Linked DNA regions of Homo sapiens: regions 1 and 3 are each linked to region 2. The links come from fine-mapping of genetic effects on gene expression. A gene starts in region 2. Each other region holds a variant in brackets. All regions are shown on one strand. Distances are from middle to middle. Region 1 overlaps PPM1F (protein phosphatase, Mg2+/Mn2+ dependent 1F). Region 2 holds the start of TOP3B (DNA topoisomerase III beta). Region 3 overlaps PPM1F (protein phosphatase, Mg2+/Mn2+ dependent 1F).

Region 1 (2,753 bases), 55 kb before region 2:
TTCAAGTGATTCTCCTGCCTCAGCCTCCTGAGTAGCTGTGACTACAGGGGCGTGCCACCATGCCCAGCTAATTTTTTTGTGTTTTTAATGGAGACAGGGTTTCTCAAAGTTGGCCAGACTGGTCTCGATCTCCTGACCTCATGATCCACCCTCCTCGGCTTCCCAAAGTGCTGGGATTACAGGTGTGAGCCACCGCGCCTGGCCTAGTTCTTGTCCTCCTCTACCCAAGCTCAGCACAGGCACAGTCTCCACTCAGCTGGGGACCACAACACCCCAGGCCTGGGTTCCTCCAGGGACAGGACAGAGGCTTGGTCCACCCACAAGTCCTCTAGAAACCTCTTTGGTCCTATCAGCCTCTGCCCAAAGGAGAGGCTGCCCCGATGAGAGCCTGCTGACTGAAGCCTGCACAACAGCATCCCTGACAGAGTGACGGAGGCACCCTGGGAGTGAGGCACCTCCCAAGTCTACTGGGGGAAGAGGGCATCCCTTACCGGTTTATCAGGTAAACCTCTTGACCCCACGCAGCACCAGCCCTTCTAGTCCCCAGGCACAGCACCAGCTGGGCATGAGAACTCTGATGCCCCAGGTGATGGTGTCCCCTAGACAGATTGGGATATCAGCCAATTCCCTCCCCAGAGCAGACGGACATGCACTGCGGGAGGCCTGGGGGAGGCAGCCCTCTCCAGATGCCTGCACCAAGGACCAGGCCTCTTTATGTGGCTCCCCTGCAGAGGGCATTGTGGTGGGAATGACATGGGTTTGCAGGAGTCCCGGCCTTCCTGGGCACTGCAGCCATGAGCCTGTGTGGGAACTGGACCAGTGCCTGGTAGGCTGGGTGCTCCTGTCCCAGCTGAGGTGGAGAATCAAGCCATGAAGGGGGCAGGAACAGGGACCTCAAGGCTCTCTCTGGGTCTAAGATCTGCCACCTCCGGGGTCTGAGCAGGGCAAGGGAAAGGCAAGGAGGACCAGGAAGGAGGGAAGAGCAGGAGACAGCCAAGAAGAGGGCAGGAGAAAGGGCACGGGGAGAGGCAGGTGGATGAACACAGAGTACGCACGAATGTTCACACATACATGTGCCCACACACACGCGTGAAGGCGCCTGCAGACGGCGAGGAGCTGCAGAGGAAGCAGCGCCTCCTCCCCTGTGCCTCAGAGGCGTTCCCTGGGGAGGGGCTGTGAGCGTGGGAGGCTCCAGGGAGAATGAGGAGCCTTTCTCTGCTTCTGTCTCCCACACACCCCAGCCCACTCCAGCCCCTCAATGTCCCAGAGGCAGGAATGTGGGCAGGTGATGGAGAATGAAC[G/A]GCAATCTGCTTCCCATGCCCTCTGGAGGTGGCTCTCCCCCACAGGGGGCCATGCAGGCTAAGCTTAGAACCTTCCTACCTGAAGCCCCTCCCCACCACCAGGGATGGCTGTGGGACAGGGTGGAGCCAAAGGGCAGGAGGGCACAGGGGCTGTGCTGCTCCCCTGCAGCCTGTGATCCCCTCTCCTGCCATTCTGCACCCCCTGTGCTGGACAGGCTGCGCCGGCTCCCCGGGCTCGCCCCTCTAACCCTGGCCCTGAACCTGGGTCCTCCTCCCCTCCAGTGGCTCCCACCTCCGTCACACACTGGCCAGGCTCAGTCTGGTCCGGGACTAACATATCCCCAGGCTAAGGGGTCTTGTCCCATTCCCCCTGAGTCTCCTAGTCACTGATTCTTGATTCTGTTTTTTGTTTTGTTTTTTTTTTTTTTTTTTTTTTTTTTTTGGAGACAGGGTCTTGCTTTGTTGCCAAGGCTGGAGTGCAGTGTCATGAACATAGCTCACTGCAGCCTCGACCTCTAGGGCTCAAGCCATCTCCTGCCTTCGCCTCCCGACTGCCCAGCGCCCACCCCCTCAGCAGCTCTTCCCTCTGCTCCTCAAACCTCATCCTCTCCACCTGCCTGAAACAGCTTCCCAGGTCAAAGCTGGAGCCGGTGGCCTGTGGGTTCCTGTGAACAGCCATTTCCTGCTTCCTAGGAGTGCAGTGCTCCACACGGCCAGGCCGCAGCAGCGTCGCCTATGGCACTGCCATCCTCCTGGATGCCCAAGGCCCTCTGCGATGTCTCCACCTGCAGAGCCGGGACTCCTATCTCTCCCAGGCTGCCTGCCAGGCGTGCCAGCGTGACCTGTGACCTTGAGTGACTCTCACTGCCCTCCTGAACTCACTTTTGTGACCCAGCCCTCAACTTGTCCTCCAGTGGCCTGATCACTTCAGAAGCTTCTAGTGAGTCCTTACAGAGTTCCTCCCAGCCTGGGGCAGTCCAGCTTTTCCAGCTGAAGGAGCAGCAGGTGGGTGGTCTTCTCCCCTGCCCCGAGTCTTCTACCCACTGATTCTGGGGCTTGTTTTTGTTTTTTGAAGACAGGGTCTCACTCTGTTGCCAAGGCTGGAGTGCAGTGTCATGAACATAGCTCACTGCAGCCTCAACCTCTAGGGCTCAAGCCATCCTCCTGTCTCCTGAGGCTTGAGAGGTGGGAGGATCACTTGGGGCACACCTCCACACCTGGCCCTGATTCTGGCATAACCTGCCCTTTCCTCCTGGTCTCTCCCCTGGCCTGCAGGAATTGCAACTGCCTGAGATGCGGCTCCATTCCATTCATCTCTCTGCCTCATCCTGCCAGGTCCTTGCCCTCCTCCTGCTCCCCCATTAGACTTAGAGGCAGGAAGTGGGTCCTGTGTTATCTCACTGCCTCAACAAAGTATCTTGTGCAGAGTGGGCACTCAGTGTTTGGAGGCTG
Region 2 (2,753 bases):
ATACTTTGCGAGGCTGAGGCAGGTGGATCACCCGAGGTCAGCAGTTCAAGACCAGCCTGGCCAACATGGTGAAGCCTGGTCTCTACTAAAAATACAAAAATTAGCTGGGCGTGGTGGCGCATGCCTGTAATCCCAGCTACTCAGGAGGCTGAGGCAGGAGAATCACTTGAACCCGGGGGCGGAGGTTGCAGTGAGCTGAGATCGCGCCACTGCACTCCAGCCTGGGTGACAGAGTGAGACTCTGCCTGCAACAAAACAAACAAAAAAAGAAACAAGCAGATGTGGCCTGGGAGTAGGCCTAGCAGTGGTCTGAATAGCATTAAAATTCCTAGGATTTACCACCTCAGTAACTTTACCAAATGCTTCTAGAATCAGGAAAAGAGGGAAACAACCATTTCTTAAGCTCCTCCTTTGTAGTAGGCACACCATAGCTATCAACACTATTCAATCTCGCCAGCAACCCCATAAGGCAGGTGTTGTAATTTTTTAAAACTGTGAGTAAATGGAGGTTCAGAACAAGTCACACTAGTGTCAGGTGACCTTGGCAAAAGAATCCCAGGACTGGCTGGCCATCAAGCCCAAGTTAGGCTGGCCTCTCAGGTCCTGTTTCAAAAGGTGAGAAGATAAAAAGGCAAGACTAGGAACATCTTACCTTTCACTTCTGCGAGAAATTATTGCCCCTGGATTCCAGCTAATTTGTTCACAAAAGTACCCTACTTCATTTACAGATAACAGGTCAGAGAACCTGGGTGCCCTCAAAACCCAGCCAGGGCCTAGGGGGCGGCGAGTGGAAGCTGCCTGGGTGTGTACCGCACCGATCTGGGCCCCGGTGGCTGCACAGCTTCCCTGAGCCTCAGTTTCCCTACCTGTGAGACTGGTACAGCAGATCTCACCCTAAAGAGCTGTGGGAGGGTTCGAAGAAGAAAAGTATTAACCACAGCGCCTGCTCCCTGCAGGCACATGGCGGGCCCATCTCCACCTCCCTGAACCCCCACAGCAAGCCCCGCGGGAGAGTATCACCCCCGCCAGGGAAGAGGCAACAAGAATGCAGAGCCCGGCCCGGGCGCTCTCCCGAGCTCGCGGGTCCTCCGCCGGCCAACGTTCAGGAAACAAGCCAGAAAAATGCGTGCGCTTCCCGCCTTTCTGAGCCGCCGGGCGAGGGTCCCGCAGCCCGCCGCTCACCCACAGCCGCACCGCGGATCCAGCTCCGGTCCTTGTTCCCGGGGCGGCTACCGACAACCCCTATTTCCGGGTCCAGCCGCTTCTGGCGTCCCCGCGTCCGGTGTGCCAGCGTCTGCCCTCCGGCTCCGGCGGGTCGGCGTTCTTAGGTTCCGTGGCTCGCGGATTCCGGGAGCACCCCAGGGAGTGGCACTTGCACGCCGCGGACCGCAGGGATCCCCAAGCCCTGCACCCAGATTCTTCCCCGCCACGGAGAGACAATCATGACAATTATCATTACAATGATTATGAAAACTGGCATGAAAACATTTATGCTGTTAATAATTAAAATAATAAAAATGTACCGATGTGTGTATAGCAGGCTTCTTTTCGATGCTGTAAAAAAATCTGTGGAATGAATGAATGATCTGTGTAAAATATATTTGGAAGATGAATTCTAAAATTAAGTTATTTATTTATTTATTTATTTATTTATTTTGAGACAGAGTTTTACTCTTGTCGCCCAGGCTGGAGTGCAGTGGTGTGATCTCGGCTCACTGAAACCTCCGCCTCCCAGGTTCAAGCAATTCGCCTGCCTCAGCCTCCTAAATAGCTGGGATTACAGGCGTGCGCCACCACGCCCAGCTAATTTATATGTGTATGTATATATATGTGTGTGTATACATATATATATATATTTTTTTTTTTTTTTTTGAGGCGGAGTCTCACTCTGTTGCCCAGGCTGAAGTGCAGTGGCGCAATCTCGGCTCACTGCAACCTCCGCCTCCCGGGTTCAAGCGATGATCTCGCCTCAGCCTCCCAAGTAGCTGGGACTATAGGCGCTTGCCACCACGCGGGCTAATTTTTTGTATTTTTTTAGTAGAGACGGGGCTTCACCGTGTTAGCCAGGATGGTCTCGATCTCCTGACCTCGTGATCCGCCCGCCTTGGCCTCCCAAAGATTTCTATATTTTTAGTAGAGACGGGGGTTTCACCGTGTTAACCAGGCTAGTCTTGAACTCCTGACCTTAGGTGGTCCGCCTCCCTCGGCCTCCCAAAATGCTGGGATTACAGGTGTGACTCTTCACGCTCGGCCAACTAATTTATTTGTTAGAGCATTAGGATTATGGAAGGTTTAAAATACGTTTTATGATCTTATTTTAAATAACATACACACATTGCCCTTGTTCCTTGTAGATTTTCCCAACCTGCTGTTTTTTTTTTTTTTTTTTTAAAGACAGGGTTTCACTCTGTCACCCAGGCTGGAGCGCAGTAGCGAGATCACAGCTCACTGCAGCCTCGATCTCCTGGCGTCAGGCGATGCTCTCACCTCAGCCTCCCCAGTAGCTGGGACCACAGGTGCCAGCCACCAAGCCCAGCCAATTAATTTTTTTTTTTTTGGTAGAGATGGGGTCTAGGGGGAGGGTCTCACTATGTTGCCCAGATTGGTCTCAAACTCCTGGCCTCAAGTGATCCTCCTGCCTCGGCCTCCCAAAGTGCTGGGATTACAGGGGTGAGCCACTGTCCCGGGCCCCAACCTGCCTTTATTGGAATGATCTGTGTAAAGTATATCTGGAAGATGAATTCTAAAATTAA
Region 3 (2,753 bases), 40 kb before region 2:
GCATTTTGACCCCTGGAATCTGCCTTCTCACCCAGTGGGGGCCCTGGAAGCTGGACAACACACATTCACCCCTGTGTGCCTGTCCCTGAGAGTGGGGGTCAGGGGAGCATGCCTGGGGTGGCGAGGTGATTCTGCACTGGGCCGACACTCCCGGCTTTAACTGGAAGGCGAGGACCTTCCAACAGCACAGGCTGACAGGTCTTGTTCCATGGGGGCTGGGCACCCAAGGTATCTACTGATGGTCTGAGGAATCTACCGGGATGGATTCCTGATTTTTTTTTTTTTTTTTCTGAGACGGAGTTTCGCTCTAGTTGCCCAGGCTGGAGTGCAATGGCGTGATCTCAGCTCACCACAACCTCCACCTCTCGGGTTCAAGTGATTCTCCTGCCTCAGCCTCCTGAGTAGCTGGGATTACAGGCATGAGCCACCATGCTCAGCAGATTCGTGATTTTTAAAATGAAAGGGTGACTCATGGGAGAAGCCTCTGGAACTGCCTTTGAAAAACAACCAGCCAAGACATGAGAAATTAGTTCCTCTGCCATTTGGGGGTTTCCTGCCAACTGCTGGGTTTTCCTTTTGCACAGCAGGGAGGAAGGACGCCTGTTTCCCTTGGTCCCGGTGAGGCCAGGCCTCAGCTTCCTGCCCACCCGCCACTGCTGCTGGGGCAGGGAGGCAGTTTCCGGCTGTGGGGACCCAGACAATGCCTGGCCAAGGGCCACCATCGTCCTCTTCCTGGACACAGCTCCCGCCTCATCCCAGGGTCTGGCCTGGGACACGCCCTAGAGGCCCTCAGCCCTGAGTCACTGCACCATGCAGATCCACCCTGATTCTGGTCCCTGCAGAGCAGGCTCCTACACAAGGCAAGAAGATGCTCCAGGGACAAGCCAAGGTGTATGCAAGGCCCAGGTGCCTGAGAAACACGTCTCACCGACCTTGGGGCAGGGGCTGTTACAAGAGGCTTATAGTCTAGTGGCAGAGACAAAAACCACACTCAAATCATTAGTGTACGGTATGCACTGCTCAGGGACTCAAATATGTGACAGGAGGCTCCAAACAAGAGCGGAGACAAGGCGTAAATAGCCCCCTGTGGACTGGATGTTCTGACTCCTGGATGGCCTCCAGAAGGATGCCTTTTACGGTCTGTGAAAGAGCTCAGGGACCAAGATGCTCAAAGCCCTTCATGCCCAAGAGCCCCTCCTCAGGCTGGGACACGGGAAGCAGAGCTCGGAGGTGGAACTCGTGACTGTGTATGGGCACATGTGAGTGCGTGTGTGTGGACAGCCAGGCTTAGTGTAGACAACGTGTGAGGCTCAGACCCCAAGTGCTGACTACACCTATGCACATCCACACCTGCGTGTGAAAGAAGATGCTAGAAAAGAACAAAAATAACTTAAAAAATAAATCCAATAAGATGGCTGGAACATATAACAACTTCAAATACTCCATTTTAGTTCACCATGTAAGGTGGGTTCCTGGGGGCTGAGGAGACTCGGGAGCTCTGCACCCCTCCTGCTCGCACCCATCACTAGGTGGCTCACACAGCAGCCGCTCAACAAGTCTGGCTGCTCTCGCATCAAAACCAAAACCCACTG[C/T]CCTCCCCTGCGCCCCCAGCACTGACCCCAACACTTTGGTTCGGGGCCCTCCTGGGCAGGTCACCTGCACTGCCTACTCACTCCTCAGCCCTCCAGGCCCTCCCACCTTGGATCCTTCCCTGGGACCCTGCTCTGCGCCCTTCTCCCCCTGCCCAGGAACTGAAGGCTGATGTTGTCACCCCGGTGCTGCGGCCTGTCCGTCTTCAGCACCTGTGCCCCACGCAGGCCCAGCAAACCCCTGGGCTCTGTTGTTCCCCGGGATGGCTTTTCCATCTGATCCCCAGCTTGGGGCTGGCACCGCTTGGCTTTGCCCGGTCACCTCATGCTTGGGCCAAAGTGCACCAACCCTTCTGTCCCGGGCCTGGCTTTTTGCCTCAAGGCAGCAATGGCCCCATGCCACCTCCACGAAGACCCAGTGGCTGCAGAACTCCCTGGTCTGGACTCCCCTGCTCCCTGCAGAGTGCCACCTGCTCCTCTCAAGAAGGCAGAACGTGAGGCCTTTCCTCACCTCCCGTGCATTGGCACCCCTGCTGGGCCCACTCTGCTCCACCACTGGGGGCTGATTCACTTTGTGCCACATATCTAAAATATTTCCTCAAAACAAGCCAATAACACCCTTTGCGCATGCCATGACCTCATGGAGCGTGGTCACCGGACATTTCCTCCTGAGCTCTAGGCAGCTGTGGGGGATGCTGGGTGGCATAGCCCTTGCATGTGGCTGACACTTAGCAATGTTTGTGCCCATGTTGCACAGGGAGAGCACAAGTCACTGACTCTGCTAGGGCCTGGGGTCAAGGAAAATAGGCCCTTGGTGGGTGTCAGGAACAGAGTTGATTCGCTGCAAGGGGCAAAGGAAGTGCACACTTGGGGGATACTGAGGCAGCCACCGAGGATGGTGGCTCTGTCAGAGGGAGCTATGGCTGAGGGCCTGTCATGGCTTCAGGTGATATTTCAGGTGATTTGGGTGATGCTGGGACTGGGGACCATGCGCACATCCCCTCAGCAAGGGACTAGGTTCACAGAAACAGCACGCGGCCCACCAGCCTGCTCACCTCCATGAGCTGTCCCCTGTGCCAGACAGACAGCCTAACTCCAAGACCCTGTCTGAGCAGAGAGGGTTCGAGAAAAGACCTTGTCCTTCACCATCTTTCATGGGACAAA

What was found. PIP is the estimated chance that this variant, and not a neighbour inherited with it, causes the effect.
Region 1: its variant is the best candidate, but not a certain one, in a credible set for the expression of TOP3B in lung (TOPMed, PIP 0.55).
Region 3: its variant is the best candidate, but not a certain one, in a credible set for the expression of TOP3B in whole blood (INTERVAL, PIP 0.90).

What each region holds. Positions count from the first base shown.
Region 1 is chr22:21,926,228-21,928,980 of GRCh38, forward strand. The region is part of intron 6 of PPM1F (protein phosphatase, Mg2+/Mn2+ dependent 1F); the gene reads right to left. Among named protein-coding and RNA genes, the nearest start is that of PPM1F-AS1, 11 kb to the right of the region's middle. The variant G/A (reference allele first, on the strand shown) is at 1,302.
Region 2 is chr22:21,981,548-21,984,300 of GRCh38, forward strand. It overlaps TOP3B (DNA topoisomerase III beta), which reads right to left and starts at 1,240. Exons shown (of 18, transcript NM_001282112.2): 1 at 1,183-1,240. RefSeq lists enhancers at 641-1,627, 1,125-1,419.
Region 3 is chr22:21,941,997-21,944,749 of GRCh38, forward strand. The region is part of intron 2 of PPM1F (protein phosphatase, Mg2+/Mn2+ dependent 1F); the gene reads right to left. PPM1F-AS1 (PPM1F antisense RNA 1) reads left to right here. Exons shown (of 2, transcript NR_147620.1): 2 at 1-1,438. Among named protein-coding and RNA genes, the nearest start is that of PPM1F-AS1, 5.1 kb to the left of the region's middle. RefSeq lists an enhancer at 1,939-2,438. The variant C/T (reference allele first, on the strand shown) is at 1,593.